Linked DNA regions of Homo sapiens. The protein of the gene in region 1 interacts with the protein of each later gene in a pairwise test. Each region holds a gene or a part of one and is shown in the gene's direction. Other genes may lie near its edges.

What was found.
Region 2: the proteins of CCDC146 (region 1) and KRT86 interact in binary tests that used the Homo sapiens proteins (3 or more experiments, as listed by UniProt).
Region 3: the proteins of CCDC146 (region 1) and NINL interact in binary tests that used the Homo sapiens proteins (3 or more experiments, as listed by UniProt).
Region 4: the proteins of CCDC146 (region 1) and MIPOL1 interact in binary tests that used the Homo sapiens proteins (3 or more experiments, as listed by UniProt).

What each region holds. Positions count from the first base shown.
Region 1 is NC_000007.14:77,125,609-77,132,633, forward strand, and holds part of CCDC146 (coiled-coil domain-containing protein 146), read left to right. Parts: intron 1-897; exon of another isoform or gene 898-1,164; intron 1,165-2,897; exon of another isoform or gene 2,898-3,118; intron 3,119-7,025. UniProt on the Homo sapiens protein: Essential for sperm flagellum biogenesis and male fertility.
Region 2 is NC_000012.12:52,269,659-52,277,649, forward strand, and holds the start of KRT86 (keratin, type II cuticular Hb6), read left to right. Parts: upstream 1-4,986; 5' UTR 4,987-5,061; coding exon of another isoform or gene 5,062-5,064; exon of another isoform or gene 5,065-5,419; intron 5,420-6,162; coding exon of another isoform or gene 6,163-6,288; intron 6,289-7,991.
Region 3 is NC_000020.11:25,582,517-25,589,522, reverse strand, and holds the start of NINL (ninein-like protein), read left to right. Parts: upstream 1-3,991; 5' UTR 3,992-4,068; exon of another isoform or gene 4,069-4,872; coding exon of another isoform or gene 4,873-4,915; exon of another isoform or gene 4,916-4,934; coding exon of another isoform or gene 4,935-4,944; intron 4,945-7,006. UniProt on the Homo sapiens protein: Involved in the microtubule organization in interphase cells. Overexpression induces the fragmentation of the Golgi, and causes lysosomes to disperse toward the cell periphery; it also interferes with mitotic spindle assembly.
Region 4 is NC_000014.9:37,200,931-37,207,955, forward strand, and holds part of MIPOL1 (mirror-image polydactyly gene 1 protein), read left to right. Parts: intron 1-7,025.

The sequences.
Region 1 (7,025 bases):
AGATATAAATGTCAACGAATATTTTATTTAATGATTTATGTTCAATAAATGGACAGCAGAGGTCATAAGAGAGTTTTCAGAAGAAAAGGTAACCAAAACAAAGAATTCAGCAATTTAGCTTAAGAGAAAAGCCATAAGAATTTAACTTTCTGAATTATAAACTATTTAAAAAGAGATATATCTTATGACTTCTATTATTCTTATGAAATATTAATAAACTCAACAATCTTAACTAATAACTATCAACATTGAGAAGTATTTAATGAATATATATAGGTACTAATTCTATTTGAAATCTCTATGTGAAACTGCAAATAGACAGTTTTATTTCTTCCTTTCTCATCTGTATGGCTTTTCTTTCCTAGTGTTATTGCACTGGCTAAGACCGCCACTACAATATTGAGTTGGAGTGGCAAAAGCAAAAATCCTTGATTTATTTCCTATTTATGAGGGAAATTTCAACAACAATTAGGAAGTTAGCAGTAGATTTTTAAAGATGCCCTTTAGCAAGTTAAGGAAGTTTACTTTCTAATTTGCTTAGACTTTTTATCATAAGTGAATGTTGCATTTTGTCAAATGCTTTTTCTGTATCTATGAAGATGATCATATTGTTTTTCTTCTGATTTATTGATATGTGTATTACAGTGATTGATTTTCAAGTGTTTCATTCCCTCAATAAGCTACATTTCATCATGTTATTGTCAGGGAGTTTTGGGTTGTCAATTTCCTGGCCAGAAACCTCTGTGGCCACAGCACCTTTGCCCGAATTCTTGTCCTGCATCCAGGAAGAATGAGGTACGCAGACAAGTGAAGGGTGAACGAGACGAAGATGAGCTTTATTAAGTGTTACAAGAGCTCAGAGGAGACCCACAGTGGGTAGCTCCTCTCTGTAGGAAGATCATCTGTCCAGCATTCAGTTCTCATTAGAGAGGTGGCCCTGGAGAGGGTAGCTCCTCTCTACTACTGGTTGTCCCAATGTCTGCAGCTCTCAGTGGAGAGGAGGCCCTGGAGAGGGTGCCTCCTGTCTGCTGGCAGGTTGTCTCTGAAGCTCTCGGCAGAGACGGTAGCTCCTTTCTGCAGCTGGTCCTTGTGTAGTCTGTCTATCCTCTTCGTCCTTTGGCCATCGTCTGCCCTGCTCTGGCTGAGCCCAGGGCTTTTATGGACCTCAGAGGGGAGGAAGTGCATGCTGATTGGTCCATGGGCAGCCATGGGCTGCTGGAAGAGGCCCCATGAGTCCCCAAACTGGTATGCAGGACCAGCAGTTGGCCCCCAGCCTTCAGGCCCTCCCTGGACTGAAGGTAGAGCCTTACTGGGGACCTGCCCCCTTCCACCCAAGAATCTGTCTGCCTCCCGCTGCCATTCATGGCCCCAGGGCTCAACCCCAACCCCACTCCAAGATCTGAGCCAGCTCCAGGAGAGGAGAGAGGTCAGGCAGCGGGAGCAGACACCCCAAGCCTGCAGGGATGGGGGGCCTTCCGGGGCACCAGAGGGTACAGGCTGCAGAGATGCCTGGGTCCCGTGGGTGAGAGGGCAGTGGCAGCTGCACCCAGGGAGCTCCCGCAGGCCAACTCAGCAGGGGCGGGATTCCCCAGCTCCTGCCTGCTCCATGTTGTGGGAGGCCCAGGTCAGCAGCTGCTGGTCAGGCGGCTGCAGCTGCACCCAAGAGGGCAGATCCTGCCTGTTCCCAGCCCCACTTCAAGAGCGCAGGGAGGCTCAGATCTACAGCTGCAGTTTGGGCGGCTGTAGCACCGTCCAGGAGGGTGGGGCTCCTGACTGCCCCATGGAGTGGGAGGCCTGGGTCTGCAGTCTCAGCCTTTCCTCCCTACTGCAGCCAGCGTGATGGCACCAGCCACTGCCATCATTATCTTTTCTATAAATTGCTAGATTCAACTTGCTAAATTTGTGAGGATTTTTACATTTTATTTTCATGAAGGATATTGGTCCAAAGTATTCTTTCATGTCTTTTTCTGGTTTTGATATTAGGGTAAAATTAGAAGGGCAAATGTTGCCTCTTTTATTTTATGGAAGATTGTTAGAATATTGTTAATATGGTTTAGTTTTATTTGTCCTGCTCAGAAGTCAATACGCTTTCTTTGTCTAAAGTCTCCAATTTATAAACCTTCAGCGTTTCCTTGCTCTTTCTATTCTTTACTTTTGGAGCTCTCATTTAGACATGTATTTTAATTTCTCATTCTGTCATCCATATCCCTTAACTGTGTTTATATGATTTATGCCTCTTCATCTTTTCGTATTTCATTCTGGATGATTTCCTCAAATCTATGTTCTAATTCATTAATTCCTTCCCAATCTTTGCTAATCCATTGTTTAATATCTGCATTGAATTTTTCATCCCAATGACTATATTATCATTTCTAGAATATTTATTTGGTTCTTTAAAAAATCTATTTTCTCTTATTTTAAACTGCTCCGTTTATTTTACTGTGGTTTCTTTACCTTCTCTTGCCTTTTTAATTATTTTAAACATACTGATGCAAAATTATTCTAGTCTGTTCTGTTATGAGGTTGCTGTTTCTCTTTTGCTACATAAACAAACTCTGTTTCATGGTGGTTTATTTCTTGTCATGGCTTATAAATTTTTATTTATAGCTCATCTTCAGCGGGAGTTCTCTTTTCTGAAAATCCTTTACATTCTAGATTACAATAAAATTTTTCTTGTTCCCTGTAGAACAATTTTGGATTTGCTTCAGTCAGAACTCGACCAATTTCCATGGTCATGGGCCAGGTTTTCGATTTTTATTTCCTTTTATTTTTGCTTCATTTCCTTCTGTGCAAAGTAATTCATTCATACAAAAGAATAAAGTATGAATAAAGTCTAAAGAATAATAGTAAAAAGAACATCTTTATGCCTAACACCCAGTTTAAGAAATAAGACATACCAATAAGTTTCAGTTTCCTTGTTTCTTTTTTCCTCCTTTATCTTCTGGCTTTCACTTAAAAGCAGGCTGAATTGAGAACTGTGTAGAAGAAAAGGGGCTCCTGCCACACAGAAATTGTAGGGAAATCCCGATTTTTTTCTTTCCGTTTTGGTCTGCTGGCCCTGCCACAAAGCCAGCTCCAAACATAGATTTGCACTGCCACTGCCAGGCTGTGAGGTTTCCTAAGAATAAAAGAGAACACTGTCTCTCTGAATAGAGGAACTGGAAAGAGAGTGTGTGGGGGAATCCCGATACTCTTTCTCTCTTTTTCTTGATATTTTACCTCGAGGGCAGCCCCAAGTACTTAGAAGTGAATGGCAGCATAAGGCAAAATCTTTAAGACAGCCTGATCCTTTTGGCCATAACAAAAGGGGCCCACAAAAACTGTAAAGTGTAGCCGAAATCCCATGTAGAAGAGAACTAGAGAAGGTGATCCTAATTCTATGTTTGAAACTACGTAAGTAACAGGGTCAGCCCTACTCCTGCACAAACATGGAGTACAGTAGGCCCCTCTTATCTTTGGCTTTGCTTTCTGAGGTTTCAGTTTCCCATGATGAACTGCAGTCTGAAAATATTAAATGGAAAATTCTGGAAATAACTTGTAAATTTTAAATTGCACACAGTTCTGAGAACATGATGAAATCTTGCACTGTCTCACTCCATCCTTTGTGCAGCATATCCACACTGTCTACCCTACCCACCCAATTGTCACTCAGTAGCTTAGCTGTTTTGGTTATCAGATTTGCTGTTGTGATATCTCAGTGCTCGTATTCAAGTAACCCTTATTTTACTTAATAATGGCTCCAAAGCACAAGAGTAGTAATGCCAGCAATTAGGACATACCAAAGAGAAGCCATAAAGTATTTCCTGTGAGTGAAAAAGTGAAACATTCTCAATTTAATAAGGAAAGAAAAAAACTATATGCTGAGATTGCTAAGATCTAAGGTTAGAATGAATCTTCTGCCTGTGAAATTGTGAAGAATGAAAAATAAATTAATTCATAGTGTATATAGAGTTTGGTACCAATCCTGGTTTCAGTCATCCACTGGGGATCTTGGAACATATCCCCCATGAATAAGGAGATACTACTGTAATCTCTACTGATCTGTCTTCAAGTTCACTGATTTTCTCCTTGTTCAAATCTACCATTGAACCCCCCCAGCGAATTTTTCAATTATTATAATTTTCTACTTAGGAATTTCAATTTGGTTTCCTAAAAATTTCTACTTATTGATATTCTCTGATGAATTACATCATACTCTTCTTTAATTCTTTAAATATGGTTTCCTTTCATTCTTCAAACATATTTATAATATCTGCTTTGAAGTCACTGTTAAATCAGACACCTGCCCACTAGTCATTTCATAGGCATCTCAGTTATCAGATCAACTGTTGATGTATCTCAGTGCTTGCATTCAACTAACCCTATTTTACTTCATAAGGGCCCCAAAGTACAAGAGTAGTGATGCTGACTACTTGGATATACCAAAGAGGAGCCATAAAGTGCTTCCTTTAAGTGAAAAGGTGAAAGTTTTTGACTTAATAAGGAAATAAAAAAATCATATGCTGAGGTTGCTAAAATCTATGATAAGAACAAATCTTCTATTTGTGAAATTGTGGAGAAGACAATTTTGTACTAGTTTTGCTGTCACATCTCAAACTGCAAAAGTTATAGCCACAGTGCCTGTATAGGATATATAGGGTACTATCCACAGTTTGAGGCATCCACTGGAGGTCTTATAAACGCATCCCATGCAGATAAGGGGAGGACTACTCAAGAAAGCATAGTTAAGGCTTTGAGAAATGAACTATGATAAAAATACCACAAAGGTCTCAGAACAACTCGCAAGCGTTGCATGTAATGTACAGACCCAAAGAGCATAGCAAAGGCTTTGAAAACTAAATATTGGAATTACTGTCCCTGAAGGCATGACAGAACTTGTGATCTGAGCCTAACCAGATTGATTACTTACTAAAACAAACAAAAATCAGTATCTTTAGAAGATTTTAACAGGACCCAGAGCTTCATAGCCAGCATAATATCCTTTCTTTCTTTTTTTTTTTTTTTTTTTGAGACGGAGTTTCGCTCTGTCGCCCAGGCTGGAGTGCAGTGGCGCGATCTCGACTCACTGCAAGCTCCGCCTCCCAGGTTCACGCCATTCTCCTGCCTCAGCCTCCCGTGTAGCTGGGACTACAGGCGCGCGCCACCATGCCCGGCTAATTTTTGTATTTTTAGTAGAGACGGGGTTTCACCGTGTTAGCCAGGATGGTCTCGATCTCCTGACCTCGTGATCCGCCCGTCTGGGCCTCCCAAAGTGCTGGGATTACAGGCGTGAGCCACCGCGCCCGGCCCTTTTTTTTTTTTTAAACGGAGTCTCACTCTGTCATCCAGGCTGGAGTGCAATGGCGCAATCTCGGCTCACTGCAACCTCTGCCTCCCAGGTTCAAGCGATTCTCCCGCCTCAGGTTCCCAAGTAGCTGGGAATACTGGCGCATGCCACCACACCTGGCCAATTTTTATAAAGACGGGGTTTCACCATGTCGGCCAGGCTGGTCTCAAACTCCTGACCTCAAGTGATTCTCCCACCTTGGCTTCCCAAGGCTGGGATTACAGGCATGAACAGCATAATAGTCAAATTGTCCATCTTAAAATCCCAAATTACTCAACATATCAGAAACAGGAAAATCTGGCCAAAATTTTCAAAGGAAAAGTTACCACCCCCAAATTATCAAAGACTATTTACAATCGCCAAAAACCTTGAAACAACCCAAAGGTCTCTCAAATGTGAGTGGAAAAGCAAACTGTAGTACATCCACATAATGGAATGCTGCTCAGTAATAAAAAGTGACAATTGGTACACACAACAAAATAGATAAAAATCTCAAGAACAGGCCGGGTGCAGTGGCTCACACCTGTAATCTCAGCACTTTGGGAGGCCGAGGTGGGCTGATTACTTGAGGTCAGAATTTTGAGACCAGCTTGGCCAACGTGGCGAAACCACGTCTCTACTAAAAATACAAAGATTACCCAGGCATGGTGGTGGGTGCCTGTAGTCCCAGCTATTTGAATGGCTGAGGCAGGAGGATCCCTTGAACCTGGGAGGTAGAGGTTGCAGTGAACCAAGATCGTGCCACTGCACTTAAGCCTGGGCAACAGAGTGAGACTCCGTCTAAAAGAAAACAAAAACATAAACAAAAAACAAAAAACTCAAGAACATTTTACAAAGTGAAAGAAGCTATACTCGAAAGATTACATACTCTGTGATTCCACTTATATGATATTCTGGAAAAGGCTAAATAAAAACGATAGGGAGCAGATCACTTGTTGCCAGGAGTTACATGTGGAGATAAAGTTTGACTACAAAGGGGTACTGCATGAAAGAATTTACTTTGGGCCAAGGGAAGGGAAAGAACTGTTCTGCATCTTGATTGTAGTCATGGTAACTTGCGTACAAGCATTTGATAGAATGCATAGAACTGTAAACAAAAAGAGTAATTTTTACTCTATGTAAATTTAAAAGTGAATTTCAAAAAATCATGCATAAAAAGAAAACACCATCTGTGAAGCAGATGACCTTACAGGTGAATTCTACCAGACATTTTCAGAGAAATAATAATAGCAGTTTTACATAAACTGTCTCAAAAATTAGAAAGGAGAGAACTCTTCCCAACTCACTTTATGAGGACAGTATTGTCTTGATAAAAAAATTAGACAAAAATATTGCCAAAAAAGAACTAGAAAACAATCCCTCATGAACACAAAAGCAAAATCCTTAACATTACATGAGCAAATCAAAATCAATAATATGGGAAAAGGATAATGCATCATGACCAAGTGGGGTTTATCTCTCGAATGCAAGATTAATTTTATGACTAAAAATCAAGCAGTGGACCAGGTGTGGTGGCTTATGCCTATAATCCCAGCAATTTGGGAAGCCGAGATGGGAGGATCACTTGAATCCAGGAGTTCAAGATCAGCCTGGGCAACATAGTGAGTCTCGATCTCTACAAAAAAAAAAAAAAAAAAGAAAGAAAGAAAAAAATCAGCCAGTCATGGTGGCACACACCTGTAGTCCCAACTACCCAGGA
Region 2 (7,991 bases), on another chromosome or scaffold:
GTGTCCTGGAACCAGTCCCCCATGAGTATCGATGAATGACTACATAAGCCACAGAGCCTGTGTGTGCCCTTCCTGGATCTCAGCATTCATTCTCCAGTCCGTTTGTTCATGTAGAGTCCCTGGTTGTTACTTTTCTCCTTCCATGACGTGCACTGCTCCTGTTGGTAAACTTGCTTGTTTTTCTCTTGTTAATCTGTCTGTTGTTGCAGGAGTCTGTCTCAACTACGAATTTATGTGGGTTGAGGAAAATTATAATTTCTCCCCTTCAGTAGGAAGCTCTTATTCTCTCCCTGTCCAAACATACTTGTCCATGTTCAAGATGTCAGTCACTTTACTGGATTAAAACATGCATTTAATCTTCTTTAAATACATGTGGATTGAATGAGCTGTAATCAAATCCACATGTTGTGGATCCTAAGGTCATCCTGATTTTTTTTTTTTTCTTTTGAGACAGGGTCTCAGCCGAGTACGGTGGCTCACCCTTGTAATCCCTTTGGAACTTTGGGAGACCGAGGCAGGTGGGTTGCTTGAGCCTAGGAGTTTGAGACCAGCCCAGGCAATATAGTAAGAGCTCATATTTACAGAAAGAAGGGATTGAGGCTGGGTGTGGTGGCTCACACCTGTATTCCCAGCACTTTGGGAGGCTGAGGCAGGTGGATCACTTGAGGTCAGGAGTTTGAGACCAGCCTGGCCAACATGGTGAAACCCCATCTCTACTAAAAATACAAAAAATTAGCCAGGCATGATGGTGCGTGCCTGTAATCCCAGCTACTTGGGAGGCTGGGGCACAAGAATTGCTTGAACCTGGGAGGTGGAGGTTGCAGTGAGCCGAGATCGTGCCACTGCACTCCAGCCTGGGTGACAGAGTGAGACTCCATCTCACAAAAAAAAGAAGGGATTGAGATTAAACCCCAAGATGGAGTCCCTCCTAGTCAGGGTGTCAGTCCCTCGCACAGACTACAGGGAAGCAATGCCATCTTCACCCCTGGAGATGGAGGTGAGAAGAAGCCATCCTCCTGGCTGCTCCCAGCTGGTAGGAAGCCAGTGCTGATTGGAGGTGGGGCTTTTTGGGACCAGCTCCCACCCCGACCAAAGGGTTTAACTTCTTATGGCTGTCTCTGTGCAGGTGTGAGCAGCTCCTTGGTGGGGTTGCCTGTGGGGGCCTCTTGGCCACCTGCACCTGCGGCATCAGCTCCTGTGGGATGGGGCCTGTGGCAGCAGCTACAGGAAGTGTTAAGTTGGCAGAGCTTGAGGATGCACCCAGCCCAGCCTCTCACCCTTGCGAGGGTCCCAGCTGGCCCTACCTGACCTTGTGCAGCCTGGTGGCAGGGCGCCACTGCTTGACCCACCCTGATCCACGTTGTCTGCTTCCCACTTCTTACTTCTTGTTGTGTGGGAATCTCTCTTCCTTGGCCCCTGCTGCCCTCAAGCTGAGAAAGGCTATTGAGAGGAGTGGCACGTAGCCCATGGGCATGTTCTGTTTGAGGATTCTGACCTGACTGAACCCACGAAGAGGATAGCCTCTCACCAACCATCTTTCAACCTTCTGCTTCCCTTGCTGTCTTGCTCTTCCCTTCCCTTCTCTGGTCTTCTTTTCCTCCTTGCTTCTTGCCTCCTTTAGAAGGCTAAAATTTAATAGACTGACAATACCAAGTGTGAATCAGCTGAAACTTTTGTGGAGTGTAAAATGATTGAGCAACTTTGGAAAACAGTTTGGCAATTTCTTATGAAGTTAAACATGCACTTATCAAATGATGCAGCAATTCCACTCCTGGGTATTTGCTCAAAAGAAATAAAAGCAGATCTATACAGAGACTTGTACATGAATTTTATAGAAGCTTTATTTATAATAGCCCTAAATTGGAAACAACCCAAATGTGTACCAGCAGATGAATGGATAAACAAATTGAGATATAGTCATACAATAAAATATCATTCAGCAACAAAAAATAATGAACTAGATTCATTCAGTGGTGATTAGATTGGAGCATACATCTGTCAAAATTTGTTGAACTGTACTTTTAGAATGTGTGCGCTTTATTGAGATACAATTGTATGCAAATTATATGTCAATTAAGTTGATAAAATAATGATTTAAAATGCATAAGATACTTAGAAATAAATCTAACACATATGTGAAAGACTTACACCTAGAGAAATATAAGCGTTACACAAAATGTTATAGGAAAGAAAAGATAAAGAAGACATAATTAAATGAAGAGCTATACCATGTTCTTAGATAGGAAGCTTTACTATCATGAATATGTTAATTATCCTTACAGTGATCTACAGAGTTGACGCAACTACACTCAAATTCCAAATGAAGATTTACATAATTCTTGACAAGTTGATTCTAAAATTTATGGGGAAGAACAAAGGTCAAGAACAGCTAAGGAATGATGAGAAGGAAGAAATAGGTACTCTCTCTTTCAGGGATTATAATGTATTATAGAGTTATAGTAATTGAGAAAGTATAGTACCCACACAAAAATAGACAAACTGACCAATGGAACAAAATAGCCCCTAAATTTATTTATAAATAAGTAAATGATTTTGTTGTAAAATAGAAGTGGTATGGCAGATCAGTAGTGAAAAGGACTATGCATTGGTTAACCACATGTAAAAAATAAAATTAGATCCCTGTTTTCTCTTATACACAAAATCAGTTTCAAATTAATTTAAATTACAAATGTCAAAAGCAAAACTTTAAGAATTTTAGAAGAAAATATTGGAGAATATTTTTCTGACCTTGGTGTAGAGAAGGATTTTTAAACATGTCACATAAAATGCTCAACATAAAAGATTGATAAATTAGATTACATTAAAACTAACAACTTTATTTTTCAAAATAGGTGATAAAGTGAAAAGATAAGCTGTAAACTTGATAATATTTGTGATATATGTAAGTGATATAATAGTAATACTCAGAAATATAAAGAACACTTATAATCCTTTAGAATACAGCAAAAACCCAATAGAAAAAAATGGACAAAAGAAAAGGAAATACACATGTAATAGACATTTAAAGAGATATTAAACTTTAACAGTAATCATGAAAATACAAAGCAAGACCAAAAATGAGATTGCATTATTTAATTGTTGAAAATTAAGACACATTAAAGAGGATACGAATCTTTTTCACATTGCTGAGCAAAGTGTGAATTGTTATAACAACTTTGGAAAATAATTTTATATTATCTTATAAAGTTAACACCTTTATAAGATTCTGACCATCCTATGAGTCAGAAGTTCTGTTTGTAGTTGTATACAAATCCTCACATATGTGCATCGGAGGACATGTAGAAAAATGTTCATGGCACCACCTTTGTAAGAGAAAGAAACAAAACAAAACAGTAATAGAATTACCTAAAGTGTGGTATAGTTACACAATGGAATACTATAAGAATGGAATATTAATATTATAATGGAGGAATACTAGCAACATAATGTTGAATAAAACAAGACCCTGTGTGACACACTTTTTATAAAAAAAGAACAAAAAAACTGAAACAAATATATATTGAGGCATATGCATGTATTTGATAAAGCTAAGAAAAAACAAAGGAATTATATCAACTTTAGGGAAGTGGTTACCTCTGGGGTGGTTAGGAGAGGACAGGGTAGGGAAGGAGCATGGAGCTAAATGTAAATTACTAGTAAGATTTTAGTTTTGGGATCAGTAAGTAGGTTCATGAGTATTTCATTTTCATTATATTATAATAATAAAGTAATATGCTAGTTATAAGAAATAAACTTAAAACATGAGGACATAAGTTGAAAGTAAAAGAATGTGTTAAGGTGATTGGTTAGATCAGATTGCCTTACACATAGTAGAAGTAAATGATTTTTCCATGAAACTTATTTCAGTAGATGTGGTGTATTTGTACGTAGGTAGTGATTCATGATACAACATATATTTCTTATTTAGAGTTGAGGTTAAAAAACAGTTTGACAACTAGTACCCCAAAGAACCTCTTGTTGAGGTCCACCAGCAGATATGTACAAGAAAGTTCATGGCAGCATTGTTTGTTACAACAAAAACAAAAAACACATGTGCTACCTATAGGAAAATAGAGATATATGTATATGTGTGTGTCTATATCTGTATCTATCTATATATATGTAGTCATACTTTGGAATACTATACAACACTGAGAAATAAAACTACATGCATCAAAAAGATGAATCTCAAAACTAGTATGTTGAGGAGGAAAAAGCAAGTCATAGAAATGTACAAGGTGTAATTCTATTTATATAAAACTTAAAGGTAGGCAAAACTCAACACTAGTTTATGGATACACGTTATGACATAGTAATAAAGAAAAGCAAGGGAATGACCAATATAAAAACTCAGGACAGTGGTTACTTTGGGGATCAGATGGGGTTGGAGATGGATCAGCAAAAATCCCGCAGGGGGCTTTGAAGGTACTGGTGGGTACACAAGGATTTGTTTTATTATTGTTGCTATTGAAATCAATAAATGTAGGTTTTGCATACTCTTTTGCATATATGAGAAATTTATAAAACAAAAAGAAAATGCTGACCACAGCTTGTGCTCTCTAGCCCCTACTCATTCCTACAGGTTAAAGTCATTGCCCTACCCAAGATTTCCTACCAAGTCTTGGGACTGGCATCCCCAGTCCCAATTTCTTGCCCTCCTGTCAATCTTCTGCACTGCTTCTAGACAATCACATCTCATGTCAGGCCACTGTCCTGCTCAGACACCCTCTGTGGCTCCCCAGTGCCCATCCATAAGCCTAAGCTCCTCAGCTCCACACATTTCCTCCACCTGAGGTAGCCTTCCCCTCCTCCACTTTCCTTTAAGTTCCACTTCAGCCCAGAAACTTCCATTTTCCCACCTGGGGTCAGAGTATGGCCCTCTTCTACCCTATGCCCCTGAGGCCTCCTGGGCAGAACTCTGTGATTGTAATGAGATGAGGTCACAGAGCCCCCAGGAAGAAGAGGCCCTAGTCCTCAGTGGCAAGGATTCTGGTAGCTCTTGGGCTGAAGCTGGGCTTTGGTGCTCAAGAGAGGCTTGGAGGAGACCACAGTTCTTTCTCCATGGTGAGACTCATACACGTGGCTCCCTGGTCACACAGGGATGAGGTGTCTTGGACTTCACCCAGATCTGTTGGGCATACAGCTTTTGGGAACAGGAGCAGAAAAGTTGGGGGCAGTGGGAACACAGCAGAAATTGAGATGATGTTTTGAGGTCTGTTCCCCCACACTCCATCTGCCCTAGAAGAAAGTTTGCAATGGGCTGGTGTGAACAGTTCTTGCTCTCTGGGTTGAGGGGGTGTGTATAACCTTGGTGGAGAGCAAAGAGCATGGGCTTAAAATGTAGTCTGGCTCAACTGTCGGCTGGCAGGGTCACTCACTCCCCTCTTGCACGTGGTGGATGGAATGAGCCCCAGTTTGCCTGAGGAAAGACAATGGGAAAAGTCACATCCATCTGGCCAACTTCATGGGTGGTTGTGAGGCCCCAGTGAGATCGTGGAGTAAAAGCTTGTGAAAAGCATCAGGCACTGTGCAAGTGTGAGTTATTGTTCCCTGGCTATTCGTGTATTGAATGCACATGGGGGCGAGGTGCAAGAAGGGAAGTGGTCCCCTGATTTCATAGACAGCACTTCCCATAGCAGCCTTGGGTTTGGGGAAGAAGCTGGAATCTAGATCACTGTCCCTGGTTTCTGATTAATGGCATTCAAATTAAGGACATTTCTTCCTAATCCTAGATTTTAAAATGTGTTTTTTAAATTAGGAAATATTGAATTTCATTAATTTTTTTTGTACTAATTTAAATGGTTAGATGTTGTAAACTACAATAATCAGTTTCCTAGAGTTTAACTCTCCCTGTTCCTGGGATAAACCCTATGTGATCTTGGTCCCAAAGCTCCCCTCAACAGATCACTGCCCTGTGTTGCTGCCCTTCCTGCCTGAGTTCAGGCTTCCTTTGGCATCTTCTGGCCCCATGGGCACAAGGCAAGCTCACTGTGTTCTTTCAACAACCTTTGGAGATAGGAAAAATGATCACTCCCATTTCACAGATGGAGAAAGGGATGCCCAGAGAAGCTAGGTGACCACTGGTGACAGCAGGTGGATGGGCAGCCCTGTCTGGCCTCCTCACCTCCTGACTACAGCTCCCCTCTGCCGTCTGCTCCACAGTGTGAGGAATTAAAGGCAACTGTGCAGAAACACACGCAGAGCCTGAAGCCCAGCAAGGAGGATCTGAACAGGCTTAATCAGGCCATCCAGTGGCTGACGGTGGAGGTGGGCAGTGCTGAGAGTCAGGTGAGAGGTGGGAGTGGGGGGCAACAGAGTGGCCATGGTGGGATGGTGACCATTATTTATGACAACTGCCCCTCCCCACCTACCCTTTGGATTAGATGGCTACACTTTCTCTTAGTGAATGTCTAAGCATACAGCAGTGCAGCTGCATGCATATATCATGCTTACCTCTGCCTAGGACATTGTGTATTTTATGTAAGTAATGAACATGTAGGTAAATCTGTATGAAGATATATGCTTGTTTGTACATTATTATCTTTTTACTTGTGTATGTTCATTTTTATGTCTGTGTTTTGTTTTTCTCGCTCAGTATTACATTTGAGCCCATCTTCAGAAATTGCAAGATATTACCTAGAAACCCAGTTTTCTGGGTTCTATTTCAAAATGTGAAGATCTGGCAATGTTAAATTATGATTCTCAAATGGCAACATTTGGCTAGAGGAGAGAGGCCTCTATCATCTCTCTCTTCTTCACATGCGGTATAGGCTGCCTGGTGTGCCGCAGTCCCCACCACTCCCAATCCCATCCTTTGGATGTGAGGCAGAGGGTCCCTTGCCATTTATCACTGTCCTGGCTGCAAGTTATTATCCTTGTAGAAGAGAAAAGGTGCTGAGTCAATGTCGCCAGAGAAATGCAAGTCTGAAAATATAAAAGAGGTGCTGGTGATTTCAGGAAATGGGAGAGGGCAGATGTATTTGTGGAACTGGGTACTCCTGATGTATATTTAGCCTTCACCTTTTGATGCTTCCAGCTAGGCCTCTGCAAGCACTTGCATTTGTGAGCCTTAGAAAGGAGCTAGTCCTCCAGGATGTTTTCTTTCTCCCATTCTCTCTTAGCCTCCTCTCTTAACCCACCCACCTCCCAGCCCTCTCACACCCCCGCTGGCTCAAGTCTCACTCCATGGAGGGAAGGGCTTCTGTTCCCGGTCTTTTCTTGCTTTCTGCAGATGCAAGTGTCTCAGGCTTGGAAGGGTATTCATGGAGAGAGATCTCCCTTGTACAGGAATGGGTGACTCTGAGAAGGGATAAGCTGCTGAGGTTCTGAGGGGGCAGAGTGAGTGGGTGGGCCATCATGGTCAGGGTCCCACCAGCCACAGCTGTTCTGGTTCCCCAAGCAGCAAATACACTTCACCAAGGTCTTATTATTTTTCCTCCTGAAGAGTATAAACTCTAGGTTCCCGTGAGGAATGGATATTCTTCTTGCTAGTTTTCCTTAGGAAACAATAACCACAGCATTACATGCCAAAGAGCATTGGATGCTTCTGGGATCCTGGCTCATATTAGGAGTTTCTCCATACTAGACGTAAAAGGCTCTCTCTCAGCCATCCTAGATAGCCGGTTTCAAATCTTCACCCTGAAGGTAGACAGGTGGGCAGGTTCTTTTCATCTTGCCATACAGACAAACAAACACAAGTTTTGGAACAGGTGTGCTCACTCCTTGCAACCATGGACAATCTCCAATCCCTCATTGGCTCTGCAGCCTCAGAGCAAGGTCTGGATCCTTAAGGGGGAAGGAGTGAGGGCCAATAATGTCCTTCTGTCCTTGGTCTACCCTTCGCTCCCTACGCCCTGTGAACTAGAGGAAGTCAAGGACCCGCCAGCTCTGCAGGAGGAGGGTGGCTCTGGCAGCACCAAGGGCAAGCTGGCTTGGCTGGAGGCTGCCCTGCAGCGAGCTAAGCAGGATGTGATGTAGCAGCTGTGTGAGTA
Region 3 (7,006 bases), on another chromosome or scaffold:
TGTGTGCCACCACGCCCAGCTAATTTTTGTATTTTTAGTAAATATGGTGTTTCATCATGTTGGCCAGGATGGTCTCGATCTCCTGACCTTGTGATCCGCCCACCTCGGCCTCCCAAAGTGCTGGGATTACAGGAGTGAGCCACCGCGCCCTGCCGTCGATTGCAGGTCTTAAGACTCTCCCATGAGAGGGTCTCACCCTATTCCCTGGGAGAAGGAATGCTGATATCATGAAGCTTTCATAAAACCCCAAGAGGACAGGGTTCAGTGAACTTCTGGGTAGGTGAACAGTGGAGGTTCCTGGAGGGTGGTGCCCAGGGAGGTATGGAAGCTCTGCCCCTTCCTCCAAACCTTGCCCTATGTGTCTCTTCACCTGTGTCCTTTACAATATCCATTATAATAAACCAGTGGGCCAGGCATGGTGGCTCACGCCTGTAATCCCAGCACTTTGGGAGGCCAAAGCAGGCAGATCACCTGCGGTCAGGAGTTCGAGACCAGCTTGGCCAACAGGACGAAACCCTGTCTCTACTAAAAATATAAAAATCTAGCCAGGTGTGGTGGCGCATGCCTGTAGTGCCAGCTTCTTGGGAGGCTGAGGCATGACAATCACTTGAACCTGGTAGGCGGAGGTTGCAGTGAGCTGGGATCGCACCACTGCACTCTAGCCTGGGCGACAGAGCAACACTCCGTCTCAAAAATAAATAAATAAAAATAAACCAGTGAACATAAGCGTTTCTCTGAGTTCTGTGAGCCACTCACAGGTAGCAAATTAATCGAAACCAAACAGGGGGTCAGGGGGTCATGGGAACCCCAACTTGAAGCTGATCTGTCAGAAGTTCTGCAGAGGCCCGGCCTTGCAACTGATGTATGTGAGGAGTCTTGGGGACTGAGTCCTCAACTTGTGGGATCTGACACTCTCTCCAGGTAGTGACAGAACTGAATTAGAGGATGCCCAGCTGGTGTCTGCTGCTCAGTGTGTGGAGAAAACCCCACACACATTTAGTCATAGGTCTTCTGTGTTGACTGTTGTGCGGTGTGAGAGTGGAGAGTTTTCTCTACACGACAATAAAATTGGAATGTCTGGAGGTAGGATGCAGGCACTGGTGTTTTTAATTTTTAAGTAGTCAAAGTGGAGAACTCCTAGTCTTCCCACTTCTCTCTGATGAAGAACCACTACATTAACTCATTTAAATTCGGTATGCTCAACTGGGCACGGTGCCTCATGCCTGCAATCTCAGTACTTTGGGGGGCCAAAGTGGGAGGATCATTTTAGCCCAGGAGTTCAAGACCAGCCTGGGCAACATAGACCCCATCTCTACAAAAAATTAGTAAGTTAGCCAGGTGTGGGGGTGCATCTGTAATGCAGCTATTTGGGAGGCTGAGGTGGGAGGATCACTTGAGCCCAGGAGATCAAGGCTGCAGTGAGCTGTGATCACACCACCACACTCCAGCCTGGGTAACAGACTGAGATCCTGTCTCAAGAAATAAAATAACAAATAAATTCAGTACACTCCTGTGCAATGGGTAATTTTTACATTTCTATTTTGCAAATGAAACTGAGATCACAGATGTTACATGACTGGGTGATCCACAGTCAAACAGCTAGTAAGTGGCATGATTCACATCTTCTGACTCCAAATTCATTCTCCAGCCAGTGAGTGGGAGCCCGTGCAGAGCATCAGGAGCACTGAAGAGAAGACATTCTTCACAATGGCAGCCCCCATGGCTCTGAGCACCCCTGGGAATCCAGGGTTATAAACTGGAGTCATCGGGGTCTTGGCTGCGCATCCCACAGGGACCACCTTTGCACGGTGTGTCCTGCCATTGTGCCCCACACTGGTTGGGACAGGTCATGGGCATAGCAAAAGGTATCTGGGCACATTCAGCAGGTCAGAGAAACCTCCCAGCCTAGAACACACTATGAGCGTCTCTGAACCACTCCCTGTGTTTGCCTTTTGCTCTGCATGGGGTTTAGCACTTGCAGGCACTTGGAAATTTCACTCGCCCTTGGAAACTCCGTTCCCCCATAGCCTGTCTTTCATCCTGCTTCCTTCTCACCCCATTTTGCCTCTGATCCTCACATCCTCTAAAGTGGAGTTCCTACAAAGTATATGCACCTTTCTCATGCTACAGTGTACTGTAGCTCATTTTGTAATTCTGATATAACTCTCTGACATTTTTGTATATTTATGTTTTTATTTTTATTTTTTGGAGACAGAGTCTTGCTCTGTCGCCCAAGCTGGAGTCTAGTGGCAAGATCTCAGCTCACTGCAACCTCCGACTCCTGGGTTCATGCAATTCTTGTGCCTCAGCCTCACGAGTAGCTGGGACTACAGGCGCGCGTTAACCACAACTGGCTAATTTTTTTGTGTTTCAGTAGACACTGGGTTTCACCATGTTGGCCACGCTGGTCTCGAACTCCTGTCCTCAGGCAATCTGCCCACAGTGGCCTCCCAAACTACTGGGATTACAGGCATGAGTCACCGTGCCTGGCTGTATTTACTTTTTTTTTTCTTTTTTTGAAATGGAGTCTCACTCTGTCGCCCAAGCTGGAGTGCAGTGGCTTGATAACCACAACCTCCGCCTCCCAGATTCAAGCGATTCTCCTGTCTCAGCCTCCTGAGTAGCTGGGATTACAGGCATATGCCATCACGCCCGGCTAATTTTGTATTTTTAGTAGAGACGGGGTTTCTCCATGTTGGTCAGGCTGGTCTTGAACTCCCGACCTCAGGTGATCCGCCTGCCTCAGCCCCCCAAAGTGCTGGGATGACAGGCATGAGCCACTATGCCCGGCCGGGTATTTACGTTTTTAAATTGTTTTCTGTGTAAACTCTATAAGGGCCAGGGATTTTTTGCACCGCTGTTGGCAGCCCCTAGGACAATGCCTGGCCCTAGTAGGTGTTCGATAAATATATACAGGTTGAATATCCCTTAACCGAGATGCTTGGCACCAGAAGCATTTAGGATTTCAGATTTTGGAATATTTGCATTATACCAATTGAACACCCCTAATCTGAAAATCCAAAATTAGAAATGCTCCAATGAGGCCAGGTGCGGTGGCTCATGCCAGTAATCCCAGCACTATGGGAGGCCAAGGTGGGAGGATCACTTGAGGCCAGAAATTCCAGACCAGCCTGGGCAACATGGTGAAGCCTCCTCTCTTAAAAAAATACAGGCCGGGCGCGGTGGCTCACGCCTGTAATCCCAGCACTTTGGGAGGCCGAGGCGGTGGATCCATCCCTTGAGCCTAGGAGTTCGAGACCAGCCTGGGCAACACAGTGAGACTCTGTGCTAAAAATACAAAAATTAGCGGACATGGTGGCAGATGCCTGCAGTCCCAGCTACTGGGGGTTGGGACGCTGAGGCGGGAGGATCGCCATAGCCGGGAAAGTCGAGGCTGTAGTGAGCCATGACCGCGCCACTGCATCCCAGGCTGGGCAGCAGAAGTGACAGCCTTTCTCAAAAGAAAAGAAAGTTAAAAGAAGAAAAAAGAAGTGCTCCAATGTGCATTTCCTTTGAGCATCAGGTCAGCGCTCAAAAACTTTCAGATTTTGAAGCATTTCGGATTTCAGATGTTTGGATTAGGGATGCTCAACCCGTATTGATTTAATATGCGGTGGAAACGTGACGACCTAGGTTTTAAGTCGCGGTTTCCTCAGTGGTGGGTTTGGGGTATTACCCCTGCCTGGCCGGCCTCCGGGCTTGTTTCCAGAAGATGCTACCCCGAGAGCTGCGAACCGCCAAGCTCCGCAGCGCGCAGGGCTCCGACAGGGACCAGCGAGGTCAGCTCCAAGGGTCACCCCAGGCTCCAAACTGGCCAGAGCCGCCCTGAGATTTGCGGAGGCCGCCTTGCCCCCACCCCGCCCCGCAATCCCGGACCCGACCCGCCCCCTCTCCCGTTCGCTCGCCCCGCCCCCTGTTCGCCCACTGCGCCGGGACACCGAGGGGGCGGTGCCTCGAGGCCGGGAGGAGTGTTGCGTCGCGGCCTCCAGACACAAAGAGCGGCCGGCGGTACGGGGGTGGTGCCGCGCTCCTGGCCCCGCGCGGGCGGACGGCGGAGGCGCCTCCCAGGTGAGCCGGCCCGGGCGTCCGGCGGGACATTCAGGCGGCTGGTGGGGTCGAGAGTCCGGGGCCGCCCCTGCGTCGCGACCCGCGCCTTAGTCACCAGACCCGGCTCCGGGAGCGCGGCCTCGGGTGCTCCTCGCGGTGCGGGGCGCAGACTCGGCGCATCTGCTGTGGTGCCTGCTCTTCCGGTCGCCCTCGAGGGCGGGGCGGGGGTCACGCCCTAAAATACAGCGCCCGCTGGGCCGAACGCTTGAAAACCCGGTTTCCCGACGGCGGCGGCGCGGGCGCCGTGCGAACGAGGGCCCGGGTCCAGCACAGCCCCAAGGCTCGGCCTGAGGCGGGCGGCCTTGGCCGGGGCCCCCCGTGGTAATGAGCTACGCGGTGCCCGCCGCCTGCCCAGCGCGGGCCGTTTCTCCTGACGCCGCCGGCGTCTGGTCGAGGCCCAGGATTCCCTCCTGCCAGTGTGGCTGCGGCCCCCCACGGAGCGGGACCCGCGTTCGTGGCGCTTGGGACGGTTGATTGAAAGGGTGTAGAAGTCTGTTGCGAATTTTATCTGTTGTACTCGTTTTGCAGATTCGCCCCTTTCCTCCCGCCTGTGCGCGCAGTCACACACACCATGTGGGAGTCTCTGATCGCGTTGGGTTCATAATCATCGATCGTGCCTGGGTACTGATGCCCCATTGTTAGGAGCTCTGTGTGGGGCTGTATGTTTGCACAGGACTCACGTGAGGAAGGGTGGCCACGTTTCTTTCTGCTCTGTGAGACTTAGGCCAAGCCCTGGAACTAGGGAGGAGGTTCAGGAAGAGACCCATGAAGCTGGCGGGGCCTTGGAGAAGGGCAAGTGATTTTCAAGGTCAGTAGTAAGAGGGGTCATGAGTAATGGTAAGTTTCTTAGCGGCCTTTGCTGTGACTTCTAGGTTTTTCACACTGGACTTAAAATACTTTTAAAAGCAGAGTTTTTGTTCTTCTTGTTGTTGTTCTTGTTGTTGTTGCTGTTTTTGAAACGAAGTTTCACTCTTGTTGCCCAGGCTGGAGTGCAATGGCGCCATCTCGGCTCACTGCAACCTCTGCCTCCCGGATTCAAGCGATTCTCCTGCCTCAGCCTCCCGAGTAGCTGGGATTACACGCCCAGCTAATTTTTTGTGTTTTTAGTGGAGATGGGGGTTTCACCATGTTGGCCAGGCTGGTCTCGAACTTCTGACCTTCAGGTGATCCAGCTGCCTCGGCCTCCCAAAGTTCTGGGATTACAGGCGTGAGCCACTGCACCCGGCCAAGTTTTTGTTTTGTTTTGTTTTTGTTTTTTAATTTTATTTTACTTTAAGTTCTGGGATACATGTGCAGAACGTTCTGGTTTGTTACATGGGTATACATGTGCCATGATGGTTTGCTGCACCTATCAACCCGTCATCTAGATTTTAAGCCCCACATACATTAGGTATTTGTCCTAATGCTCTCCCTCCTCTTGCCCCCCACCCGCCCCGACAGGTCCCGATGTGTGAGGTGTGTGATGTTCCCCTCCCTGTGTCCATGTGTTCTCATTGTCAACTCCCACTTATGAGTGAGAACATGCGGTGTTTGGTTTTCTGTTCTTGTGTTAGTTTGCTGAGAATGATGGCTTCCCACTTTATGCATGTCCCTGCAAAGGACATGAACTCATTCTTTTTTATGGCTACGTAGTATTCCATGGTGTATCTGTACCACATTTTCTTTATTCAGTCTATCCGTGATGGGCATTTGGGTTGGTTCCAAGTCTTTGCTATTGTAAATAGTGCTGCAATAAACATACACGTTTATGTGTCTTTATAGTAGAATGATTTATAGTCCTTTGGGTATATACCCAGTAATGGGATCACCGGGTCAAATGTTATTTCTGGTTCTAGATCCTTGAGGAATCGCCACACTGTCTTCCACAATGGTTGAACTAATTTACACTCCCACCAACAGTGTAAAAGCGTTCCTATTCCTCCACAGCCTCTCCAGCATCTGTTGTTTCCTTGCTTTTTAATAATTACCATTCTAACTGATGTGAGATGGTATCTCATTGTGGTTTTGATTTGCATTTCTCTAATGACCAGTGATGATGAGCTTTTTTTTTAATATATGTTGTTGGCTGCATAAATGTCTTCTTTTGAGAAGTGTCTGTTCATTTCCTTTGGCCACTTTTTGATGGGGTTGTTTTTTTCTTGTAAATTTGTTTAAGTTCCTTCTATATTCTGGATATTAGACCTTTGTCAGAAGGGTAGATTGCAAAAATTTTACCCCGTTCTGTAGGTTGCCTGTTCACTCTGAAGAGTTTCTTTTGCTGTGGAGAAGCTCTTAGGTTAGATCCCATTTGTCAGTTTTGGCTTTTGTTGCCATTGCTTTTGGTGTTTAGTCATGAAGACTTTGCCCATGCCTATGTCCTGAATAGTATTGCCTAGGTTTTCTTTTAGGTTTTTTATGGTTTTGGGTTTTACATTTAAGTCTTTAATCCATCTTGAGTTAATTTTTGCATAAGGTGTAAGGAAGGAGTCCAGTTTCTGTTTACTGCATATGGCTAGCCAGTTTTCCCAGCACAATTTATTAAATAGGAAATCCTTTCCCCATTGCTTGTTTTTGTCAGGTTTGTCGAAGATCAGATAGTTGTAGAAAGCAGAGTTTGTTTTTTTTTTAAGTAGTTAAAACTCATCTGTTAAACAGAACACTGAATCAGCAGCCTAGCAGTTTTATGAACTGTGTGCAAGAATGCTTGTATATTAAAAGGAAAATGTTCAGGTGTTAGAGAAGCAGTCTACTTTCATGCTTGTCCCTTTTGTTTGACTTATACATCATCCATTAGTGGTTTAAATGATGACAGATTGAATTGATCTGTATTGGCAAATAAAAGTGGGATGTGTGTTTATGTAAAGTTCAGGTGCAATAAAAATTAGAGGATAACTCTTTTTTGTAGAATGAGAAAATAGCA
Region 4 (7,025 bases), on another chromosome or scaffold:
GTACCTCTGTCACCCAGGCTGGAGTGCAGTGGGGTGATCTCGGTTCACTGCAGCCTCTGCCTCCTGGGCTGAAGTGATCCTCTCACCTCGGCTTCCCAAGTAGCTAGGGTTACAGGCACACACCAACATGCCCAGGCTAATTTTAATATTTTTTTGTGGAGATGGGGTTTTGCCATGTTGCCCAGGCTGGTTTTAAACTCCTGAGCTCAAGTGATCCTCCTTCCCCAGCCTCCCTAAATGCTGGGATTACAGGCACAAGCCACCACACCTGGCCAGTATTGTAAAGCAGCATGTGTTATAGTGTTTTGGTGTTGGATTTCAGATCTCTAAACATACTTTATTTGGTTTACCAGTTTTACCTTAAGACTAATTAGAGGCCAGTTTGATTCTTGTCTGAATTGTTTTTACTTCTCCCACTTTCTTCTCACCCTGTAAATCTGAAGAACAAAAGACAGGTAAGAAGTGAGAAAAGAAAGAAGAGACAGTCTTTCTTTGATATTATTTAAAAGGCTAGGAAAGAAAAGGATGAATGTCTAGACAGTTCTGGATATTTTGAGTAAAAATATGTAAAAATATATAATATAGTTATTGTAATATTTTAAGGTGCATTTTGTCCTTTGAGCTGTTCCATCTTGGGTTTTCTGACATTTTTATCTAGTGATTGAGTACACTCATGATATAGGACGTAATAGCCATTGACTTGGGCCGTGAAGCTCAACTGTGACACCTCTTCCCAGGATGGAGGCCCTTTCTTCCTTAAATGTCTCTTTGGGCTGCCCAGTTCATCTTTTACTCTTGGCCCCCTGCCTTTTGCTCAGTATTGCCCAAAATTTTACTTTAATACCATTCAGCCCACCATCCATGTTAACATTTTTAGCTAACACTTTCTAGGTATTTGTTGTTGTTCTTGTTGTTGCTTTTAGAAACAGGATCTTGCTCTGTCACTCAGGCTGGAGTACAGTGGTGCAATCATAGCTCACTGTAACCTTGACCTGGGGTCAAGCTGTCTTCCCTGCTGCAACCTCCCAAGTAGATAGGACTGCAGGTGCTCAACATCACACCTAGCTATTTTGTTTTCTGTTTTTGTTGAGACAGAGTCTACCTTTGTTGTCCGGTCTAGTATCCAACCCCTGGCCTCAGGTCCTCCTGCCTCGACCTCCCAAAGTGCCAGGATTACAGGCATTAGCCACTGCACCAGCCCATTTCTTGTTTTTAAGTAATTTATAGAAGTGAATTTAGTGCACATTTAGATATATGCTAATACTAATGAAGGGTGTGAGGGTAATTTCATCAGTGTGATCCTTCTTTGATATGTATAATTGTTTTTTTTAGTCTTACTTGATTGTTATGCAGATAGATTTAAGAGGGGCCTCACCTTCCACTATCAATTCATTGCAGTTAAGTAAGCTTTTCTCATATAGAAATTCTGGATCCAGTACATACTGCATTTCATTACACACACACACACACACACACAAACACACACACAATGACTAATGTAAATACCTTCCTGCTTTATAAGTCCCACACAAAGCAATTGTGTTCATATGCGTGTTTTTCATGGCACTCCTTGAATCAGCTTGGAGTCACTACAAATTATTATGGGTAATAAAGGGCATGTGCCAGTAGGAGGGATTCTCAGACAAGGGAGTCCCCTCCCTCCAGGGCTTCAGACTTCATAAGGGAGCAAATAGGGAATTTATGTGGCACAAATATTTAATTTGTACGATCATCCTTAGGTGATGCTTTCATATTAGTAAGGATGTATTTGTGAGTCCAATTGTAGTCATTAGCTTCTGACCGTACCTTCTCCCCTGCATATTGCCTGCACTACATTGCCATTGTTGACTTCTGGGACAATTTTCCAGGATTTCATTACTAACAAACCTTGCCTTTTCTGGTTGCAGTTTTTAGATACTTTATTTAGGTTACATTTAATCTTGTTTACCATATTTAGGGTGACTGTGTGTTCAAGGTGAATGTATTTGTCTATTGCTTATTTGTTGCTTTTATAATTTATTTCCAGCAAATCTTATTACTAGTACGTCCAGCTACCTGGGACTGGGGATGGGCAGATGACTCACTTCCACTTGCAACTTCACGTACCATCTAGAGATGGCTTTAGGGTTGATGAGAGAAAAAGAGATAATGCACAAGATTAATCAATTGTAGCTGCTTTTGTCAGCATTGTATTATTATTCTCTCTATTGAATTTATTAGATTTTGAGACTATCATAAAGAGAAGATAGAACTGTTTTAGAGCATTAATTACAAAAACAGTTTACTATAGTGGAAAGAGCACTGGGCATAAGAGCAAAATAAGTGTGGCTCACTACCTGTTTGTTTTAACTTTTCCTGGAACTCAGCTTTCTTTTGTGAAATGAGGCCTTTTGATGAAGTATCTCTAATCTCTGGTAATCTTTTTCAAAAGACTGCCAAGAGACCGTAGGGGTCATTTAGGCTACCTTCTCAGTTTAGTCACATAGTTACTAGAACCTATTTTTGTTCTGGTTTTTATTCCAGTTGCTTTTTCCATTATACTACCTGTGATAGGGAGCCTTCTAAAATGACCTTGGTATTCACTCTTGTGTAGTTCCTTCCTCTTGAGGGTGAACTAGACCTAGAGGCTCACTTCTACTAGAATATGGCAAAAATGGTGTGATGTCACTTCTCAGATTAGATTACAAAATCTATGACTTCCCTTTTTGCTGGCACTCTGTTGCTCACTCACCTTGAGGAAGTCAGCTGTCATGTTGTGAACTGACCTGTGAAAAGGCCCACCTGTCAAGGAACTGAAGGGGACCTCCAGCCAGTAAGGAACTGAGGTTCTCAGTCTAAAAAACCTCAGGCATTTGTTTATTTATTTATTTGAGATGAAGTCTCACTCTGCCGCCCAGGCTGGAAAGCAGTGGTGCGATCTTGGCTCACTGCAACCTCCGCCTCCCGGGTTCAAGCAATTCTCCTGCCTCAGCCTCCCAAGTAGCTGGGACTGCAGGCACATGCCACCACGCCCAGCTAATTTTTTATATTTTTAGTAGCGACAGGGTTTCACCACGTTAGCCAGGATGGTCTTGATCTCCTGACCACGTGGTCCGCCCACCTTGGCCTCTCAAAGTGCTGGGATTACAGACGTGAGCCACTGCGCCCAGCCCCCTCAGGGATATTAATCCTGCCAACGACCACCGAGAGAGTTTGGAAGCAGATCCTCTCCCTGTTGAACATTGAGATGACTGCACCCCTGGCTGACACTTCGATTCCAGCCTTTTGAGAGACCCTGGGCTGGAGGACTTAGCCAAGCAACACTCAATTTCTGATTTTTAGCAACTGTGAGATTGCAAATGTGTATTGTTTTAAGCTGTTGAATTTGGGTTTAATGTGTTAAGTAGTGAGATTGCAAATGTGTATTGTTTTAAGCTGTTGAATTTGGGTTTAATGTGTTAAGTAGTGATATAGTTTGCCTGTGTCCCCACGCAAATCTCATCTTGAATTGTAGCTGCCATAATTCCTTCATGTTGTGGGAGGGATCCAGTGGGAGATAATTGAATCATGGGTGGTTTCTCTCATACCGTTCTCATGGTAGTGAATAAGTCCATGAGATGTGATGGTTTTATAAGGGGAAACCCCTTTTGCTTGGCTTTCATTCTTTTTTGCTGCCGCCATGTGAGATGTGCCTTTCACCTTTCACGATGATTGTGAGGCCTCCCAAGCCACGTGGAACTGCGAGCCCATTAAACCTCTTTCTTTTGTAAATTGCCTGGTCTCAAGTATGTCTTTATTAGCAGCGTGAAAACGGACTAACACAGTAAACAGACTAACACAGTAAATGGACTAATACAGTAGAGTGGGGTGCTGCTGAAAAGATACCTGAAAATGTGGAAGTGACTTTGAAACTGGGTAACAAGCAGAGGCTGGAATAGTTTGGAGGGCTCAGAAGAAGACAGGAAAATGTGGGAAAGTTTGGAACTTCCTGGAGACTTATTGAATGGCTTTGCCCAAAATGCTGATAGTGATATGGACAATAAAATCTAGGCTGAGGTGGTCTCAGATAGAAATGAGGAACTTGTTGAGAACTGTAGCAAAAGCAAAGAGACTGGCGGCATTTTGCTCCTGCCCCAGAGATTTGTCGAACTTTGAACTTGAGAGAGATGATTTAAGATATCTGATGGAATAAGTTTTTTGTTTTTTTTTTTGAGACGGAGTTTTGCTTTTATTGTCCAGGCTGGGGTGCAGTGACACGATCTCAGTTCACTGCAACCTCCACCTCTGGGTTCAAGTGATTCTCCTGCTTCAGCCTCCTGAGTAGCTGGGATTACAGGCATGCACTACCACGCCCAGCTAATTTTTTGTATTTTTAGTAGAGACAGGATTTCATCATGTTGGCCAGGCTGGTCTGGAACTCCTGACCTCAGGTGATCCACCCACCTCGGCCTCCCAAAGTGCAGGGATTACAGGTATAAGCCACTGCACCCAGCCAGTGGAAGAAATTTTTAAGCAACAAAGCTTTCAAGAGGTGACATGGCTGCTGTTAAAACACATTCAGTTTTTTTTTTTTAATACCTTAAGTTCTAGGGTACATGTACACAAAGTGCAGGTTTGATACATAGGTATATACATGTGCCATGTTGGTTTGCTGCATCCATCAACTCATCATTTACATTGGGTGTTTCTCCAAATGCTGTCCCCCGCCAGCTCCCCATCCCCCAACAGGCCCTGGTGTGTGATGTTGCCTACCCTGTGTCCAAGTGATCTCATTGTTCAGTTCCCACCTATGAGTGAGAACTTGCGGTGTTTGGTTTTCTGTCCTTGTGATAGTTTGCTCAGAATGATGGTTTCCAGCTTCATCCATGTCCCTGCAAAGGACATGATCTCATGCTTTTTTATGGCTGCATAGTATTCCATGGTGTAAATGTGCCACATTGTCTTAATCCAGTCTGTCATTGTTGGACATTTGGGTTGATTCCAAGTCTTTGCTGTTGTGAATAGTACCATATAAACATACATGTGCCTGAAACACATTCGGTTTTATAAGGGAAGCAGAGCATAAAAGTTCAGAAAATTTGCAGCCTGACCCTGCAATTGAAAAGAAAAACCCATTTTCTGAGGAGAAATTCAAGCCAGCTGCAGAAATTTGCCTAAGTAACAAGGAGCCAAATGTTCATCCCCAAGACAATGGGGAAAATGTCCCCAGGGTATGTCAGAGGTCTTCATGGCAGCCCCTCCCATCATAGGCCCAAAGGCCTAGGAGGAAAAAATGGTTTCATGGACCAAGCTTAGGGTCCCCATGCTATGTCCAAGGACTTGGTACCCTGTGTCCCAGACACGCCAGCCTTGGCTGAAAGGGGCCAATGTAGAGCTCAGGCCATGGCTTCAGAGTGCGCAGGCCCGAAGCCTTGGAAGCTTCCATGTGATGTTGAGCCTGTGAGTGCACCGAAGTCAAGAACTGGGGTTTGCAAATCTTCGCCTAGATTTAAGAGGATATATGGAAATGCCTGGATATCCAGGCAGAAGTTTGCTACAGGGATGGGGCCCTCATGGAGAACTTCTGGTAGGGCAGTGCATAAGGGAAATGTGGGATTGGATCCCCCACACAAAGTCCCTACTGGAGCACTGCCTAGTGGAACTGTGAGAAGGGGGCCACCATCCTCCAGACCCCAGAATGGTAGATCCACTGACAGCTTGCACCATGCTCCTGGAAAAGCCTCAGACACTCAACACTGATACGTGAAAGCAGCTGGGAGGGAGGCTGTACCCTGCAAAGCCACAGGGGCAGAGCTGCCCAAGATGTAGGAACCCACCTCTTGCATCAGTGTGACCTGCATGTGAGACATGGAGTCAAAGGAGATAATTTTGGAGCCTTAAGATTTGACTGTCCTGCTGGATTTTGGACTTGCATTGGGCCTATGGCCCCTTCATTTTGGCCAATTTCTCCCATTTGGAATGGCTGTATTTACCCAATGCCTGTACCCCCATTGTATCTAGGAACTAACTTGCTTTTGATTTTGCAGGCTCACAGGTGGAAAAGACTTGCCTTGTCTTGGATGAGACTTAGGGCTGTGGACTTTTGAGTTAATGCTGAAATGAGTTAAGACTTTGGGGGATTGTTGGGAAGACATGATTGGTTTTGAAATGTTAGGACATGAGATTTGGGAGGAACCAGGGGCGGAATGATATGGTTTGGCTGTATTCCCACTCAAATCTCATCTTGAATTGTAGCTCCCGTAATTCCCTCATGTGGTGGAAGGGACCCAGTGGGAGATACTTGAATCATGGGGGCAGTTCCCCCATACTGTTCTCCTGGTAGTGAATAAGTCCAGGTGAGTTCTGATGGTTTTATAGAACCCTTTCGCTTGGCTTTCATTCTCTCCTGCCACCACCATGTGAAATGTGCCTTTTACCTTCCATGATGATTGTGAGGCCTCTCGATCCATGTGGAACTGTGAGTCTATTAAACCTCTTTCTTTTGCAAATTGCCTAGTCTTGGGTATGTTTTCATCAGCAGTGTGAAAACAGACTAATATAGGTAGCAATAGACAACTACACTATTCATTAATATCAGAAAAGCTTTAATCTGTTTTTATCAGTTTAAACTTATTTGAGGATATGATATTATTATTATTATTATTATTATTTTTTGAGATGGAGTCTCTCTCTGTTGCTCAGGCTGGAGTGCAGTGGCACGATCTTGGCTCACTGCAACCTCTGCCTCCCAGGTTCATGCGATTCTTGTGCTTCAGCCTCCCGAGTAGCTGGGATTACAGGCACGTGCCATCATGCCTGGCTAATTTTTGTATTTTTAGTAGAGATGGGGTTTTACCACATTGGCCAGGCTGGTCTTGAACTCCTGACCTCAGGTGATCTACCCACCTCAGCCCCCCAAAGTGCTGGGATTACAGGTGTGAGCCACCATGCCAGGCTGAGGGCATGCTATTTTTATATCTTGAAAAACCAATTATTAACAGTTTTAACTATAAATCCCATACTTGTTTTTGGTTATAATTTAATTGCTAGGTGTTTGTTTTATTTCT